2 separate regions of the Homo sapiens genome follow, and region 1 is linked to region 2. The links come from fine-mapping of genetic effects on gene expression. Tissue or cell type: whole blood. Region 2 holds a variant in brackets; the other region holds the start of a gene. All regions are shown on one strand. Distances are between the middles of the regions.

The links. PIP is the estimated chance that this variant, and not a neighbour inherited with it, causes the effect.
Region 1: it holds the start of MCFD2, and the variant in region 2 is fine-mapped to the expression of MCFD2 in whole blood (TOPMed, PIP above 0.99).

What each region holds. Positions count from the first base shown.
Region 1 is chr2:46,914,397-46,917,108 of GRCh38, forward strand. MCFD2 (multiple coagulation factor deficiency 2, ER cargo receptor complex subunit) reads right to left here and starts at 1,410. Exons shown (of 4, transcript NM_139279.6): 1 at 1,327-1,410. It also overlaps a transcript of TTC7A not described here. RefSeq lists a silencer at 1,397-1,476 and an enhancer at 1,480-2,454.
Region 2 is chr2:46,953,296-46,955,795 of GRCh38, forward strand. The region is part of intron 2 of TTC7A (tetratricopeptide repeat domain 7A); the gene reads left to right. Among named protein-coding and RNA genes, the nearest start is that of TTC7A, 13 kb to the left of the region's middle. RefSeq lists a silencer at 1,835-2,129. The variant C/T (reference allele first, on the strand shown) is at 1,507.

The DNA of each region.
Region 1 (2,712 bases), 39 kb before region 2:
ACCAGTACTTTGTCACTTACCCCTGTCATGGTCCTGGAATGAAGGCAAGAAAATAACCAACTTCCTAAGCTAAAGAAACCTCTACACGGACTGAGGGTTGAGAATTGGTTCTGAAAAAGCAGGCATTTAATATTAATAACTTGATCTATTTGTTCATCTAGGGAGCCCAAGGAGCACCCATGCTGCATTTATACATTTAATGACCGTACTAACAGCACAAGGTACTGAAGATAGTACTATGACCTCGACAAACTCCTCTCACACAGATTACAACCTGGTAGAAAAGAGAGACCGGCAGGCAGACACCCATGGGGTACCACGAAATCCCCAACTGACACCTGAAATAACACATAAAGGATAAGAAGGATTATTTCAACCAAAGGACAGTGCCTCAGACATAGCGAACATACTGAAGGAACATGTAAGCCCAGAAGGAACTTGTTCTGATCTAAGAACCAAAAAAGATTCAGTATGGTTGAAGACACAGTACAGTCGAGACAAATGAATCTAAAGTTAAAGGAAGACAGGTCATGAAGGGCTTTGCAAGCCCCGTTCAAGAGCTTGGAAGAGCAATGAGAATCCACCAAAGGGTGATAAGGGAATGGGGGGACGCTTCTGGTCACATGATCAGATTTCTGTTTTAAGACCATGGCTGTAGCCTCTCTGTATAGAACAAACTACAGAGGATGAAGAAGAGATGCAGGGATCATCAGGAAGACACCGAGGTAGTCCAGAGAAGAAAAGGTGGCCTGAACTAGGTAGGGCAGGGGGATGGGACTGGAGAATGAACGTATCCAAGACAACTTTGCAAGGGATTCGATGTGGGTGGGTAAAGGAGTGAAGCAAGTGAGAATGATGCCCAATTCTGGCTTGGGCACCCGGGTGGATGGCCATGCCCAGAGAGGGAATACAACAGGAGATCAGCTTCCCCCGCCGGGCCCGACAGGACCTGTGGTCTCCCCGAGAGAGGGAACAAGGAGCAGAGGGAGAGTAAGGCTTCCGGCCCGCTGCTTTTGGGCCGGGCCAGGAGCAGTGTCCACCCGACACAGCTGGTCCCACAGGCCGATCCTCGGGCCCCTAGGGACCAGGGAAGGGGGCGGAGATCTGCCCAGTCGGCCCCGTCTGGCTCCAGAGCCCCCGGTGGGGCACAGGCTTCCGCCCCGGGAGACAGGCCGTGCTCCTAGCCGGTTAAGCGTCCCGAGACGGCCTGGGGGCCCAGCCCGCGCCCCCAGACTACTCCTGCCTCTCATCTTGAGCCCAAGCCTCCAGCCCACAGGAGAGGCGCCGGGATCCCGCCCGCTGCGGAGAGTGCGCTAGTTCACTCACCCTTACGGTCTCCGAAGCAGACGCGAAGCCCTCCAACGTGAGCCTCACCAGCCCCCGTCCCCAAAACGCTCTTCCTCGGCTTCGCCCCGCCCCCCCCCCCCCCCCGACCTGCCCTGCGCACGCGCGCTCCCTGCCGCCCGCCCATTGGCGCCGCCGGGCCCCTCCCGCTGGCGGCGGCGGGCTGTGAGGACGGCTCGCGTGAGTCCACGTGTAATCGGCCCGGGCCCAGCACTGGCGGGACTGACGCAGTTCTTCTACCTGCTTTCCCAAGGGCGACACTCGGCTCCACTCCAGTTGGGCCGCTGGACGCCCTAGGGGCCCGGCAGTTGCTAGGCAACGCCGGAAGCCCTCAGGAACGTAGTTCCACGGGCGACGTAGGATGGCGGATCCGGATGGGGCGGACCCCAAAGCTGGCTCCCAACTCCGCTCACCCCCTCCTATACAGGGCTCTTGGTTCAGGTCTCTTGGTTCGTCCTGCTGCAAGTTGGGAAGAAAGATAATAGGAATGCTAATTCCTTCTTGATGAAACGACCACAACACGCTGGAGCCGGCCTTGGACCCTACGTTTCAAGATTGGCCTGCTTCCAGCGTCTGCCAGCTCCACTGCACAAGCTGCGGCAGCCGCTGTCCCCGTTCGCTTCCACGGGAGTCCCAGCAAGACTATGCGACCCAGTTCAAATACCATCTTCCATGTACCGTTCGTGAAATCAGCAGCTTTTGACATTCAAGAGAGGACAGATTACTTAAAAACAGACTCATGAACAAATAGGGAAACGAATACATCATCCCTGTATCGAATTCATCCCTGTATAATCCTGCCCTTACACCTGTGCTCCTATACAAGATTAACATTCAGTAAGTATCCATTGACCTGATGGATAAATGAGTGTAGGACGGTCGTTTTGTTTTTTTGTTTTGTTTTGTTTTGTTTTGAGACGGAGTCTCGCTCTGTCCCAGGCTGGAGTGCAGTGGTGGGATCTCGGCTCACTGCAACCTCCGCCTCCCAGGTTCAAGCTCTTCTCCTACCTCAGCCTCCCGAGTAGCTGGGATTACAGGCGCGTGCCACCTTGCCCGGCTAATTTTTGTATTTTTAGTAGAGACGGGGTTTCACCGTGTTGGCCAGGCTGGTCTCTAACTGCTGACCTCTTGATCCTCCCGCCTCAGCCTCCCAAAGTGCTGGGATTACAGGCGTGAGCCACCACTCCCGGCAGGACGGTCGTTTTTTTTAAAGCCCTTCTCCCATTTCTGTCCATAAAGGTACATAATCGTTTTTCAAATGAGCCTGGGTCCGGACAGGAAAGACAAAGAAAGTGGCTAAGTAGTTAGATGCCTTGAAAGTTGCCTAACGCCACTGCCATTGACGGTCTCATTCCTTTTCCCACCTTC
Region 2 (2,500 bases):
GGCATGCACCACCACACCCAGCTAATTTTTAAATTTTTTTGTAGAGACAAAGTCTTGTCATATTGCTCAGGCTGGTCTTAAACTCCTGGGATCAAGCAGTCCTGTCACCTGTGCCTCCCAAAGTGCTAGGATTACAGGCGTGAGCCACCATGCCCGGCCATCATTTGTAGTATTTTCTATCTCACCCGCAAAGATCAGGTCACAGTTGGCGTGACCTTTCTTGGCAGCTGATGCAGTCTCAGGTGGATTCCTGTGCATCCAAGTAGCTCTGCTGGATGAGAAGGAGAGCTGGGAGAGGTGGGTCCTGAGGCCCCTCCTTGGGAAAGCTTGAAACCCTTTCCTCTTGGTTATCTCTCTAAGACCCCGTCCAGCTCAGTTGTGTGGAGATCAGTGAAAACAAGCCACTTGTCCTAAACTCTGTTCTGCTACTAGGTTGAGGCTTTGCACCATCGCATGCAGGCCTCCAAGGAACCTTCTGCAACGGTATTTACTATTAGCCCCATTTCTTTTTCTTTCTTTCTTTCTTTTTTTTTTTTTTCAATTTTTTGTAGAGACACAGTTCTTACTGTGTTTCTCAGGCTGGTCTCAGATTCTGGGTTTCAAGCGATCCTCTTGCCTTGGTCTCCCAAAGTGCTGGGATTACAGGTGTGAGCCACTGTGCCCTGCCAAGCTCCATCTCTTGAGACCCAAGAAAGGTGATCACAACCCAGGCCTTTAGTGTCTACAGCCCATGCTCTAATGCTGTCTCTCATTTCTTGGTACTGCCTCCCAGAGTACTGGGGTGGAAATAAAATAATGACTGGGAAAGTTGGATTCATGTGAAAGATGGTGATCACACCCCCACTTTTATAGTTCCCACGTTAGTCTGTGAAGTATTTCCTCATCCGTTCTTTCCTCATACCTGGATATCTCCATGAAGTCCTTTTTCCCCTTTTATTGACAGGGACAGTGAGGCACAAAAGGAGTAGGTGATGCGCTGATCCACACAGTAGAGGGGATTGTTCCTCTGGTAAAGCGACCTCCCCCGTGGCACCCTCCCACTGGGCAAGGGGTTCCGTTCCCTGACTGTTGTACTGATAGACCAAGAATATTTCACATTCAAATGCATGGGCCCCACAGAGTGCAGTGGACTCTTAATGTTGCCAAGTAAGGACATTAAGAAGCAAAAAATAGCAGCAAAATGATACCATCTTCTGCTCTTACTGTGCTATAACAGAAAAACAGTTTAGCATTGAAAGGGCAAGGTAGATATCCTTTCAGAACTAAGAGCCTTTTTTTTTTTTTTTTTTTTGAGACAACGGAGTCTCGCTCTGTCACCCAGGCTGGAGTACAGTGGCACGATCTTGGCTCACTGCAACCTCCGCCTCCCGGGTTCAAGCGATTCTTCTGCCTCAGCCTCCCAAGTAGCTAGGATTACAGGCGCCCACCACCACGCCCGGATAATTTTTGTATTTTTAGTAGAGACGGGTTTTACCATGTTGTCCAGGCTGGTCTCAAATTCCTGAT[C/T]TTAGGTGATCTGCCTGCCTCGACCTCCCAAAGTGCTGGGATTACAGGCGTGAGCCACCGTACCCGGCCGAGCATTTTTTTAAATAGTGTAAATGTGGCTTTATAAAACATGCCCTGCATTGTCTAATTTTTCCCCAGCTTGGTGGAAGCTCTGTTGTAAACTGCCACTGGTCCTCCAGGAACCGCCACTAGCCACACCCCATCAGCATGCCTGAAATGTCCTTCTCTGCCTCACTGCCCTTGTCTCCATGTGCAGGATAATGATAAATACGCATACCCTGTATTTATCTTGCTCTTTTCCAAAGAAAAGTTCAAAGCTCTTTTCTGGACTTTGCCCTATTAATGCCTTCAGCATCGCTGTGATAGGCAGTGAGGAGTAGGTGTTATTATCTCTCCCTCACCCACGAGGAAGACGCAGCCCGAGCAGGGAGGAAATGAGCCCGTGGCTTGAGACCAGTGCAGGGAACGCAGAGTCACTGCCCAGCTTGGAAGGACTGTGGGCCACATACCTCTGGGATGTGTCATCTGTGGCCCTGGCCCAGGGAGTGGATGGCCTATCTGGGAAGACTAGCAAATCCCCTCAAAAGATTCAGCTTTGGAGAGTTAATTAATAGAGAGAGCAGGTCAGGCGTGCAGAGGCTGAATGGGCCCATTGGTAGAGGCATTGGAGGAGTTCAGCTGAAGGGAGCTCCCTGGTAGTCAAGGAGGCTTTCAGGAGAAGGTGGGCCTGAGCAAGGCCCCAAAGGATAGAAGAGGACCTGGTTAGGCCAGGGGGAAGGGGACCTGAGGAAGCACAGGCAAAAGAGGAATGTGGATTTACAAAGGCCAGAAGGACCAGTTGGGAAGGTGAATTTGGCTTCCCCAGAGCCTGTCTGTGCCACGCTTCATTTCTCTTGGCTTCTGAGAGGGCAGTAGATGGTAAGGAGTGCTGGAGGCTTGCCCTGGGGTCACAGGGACCCCAGACTCTTACCTCCCTACAGGGAGACAGGGGTAG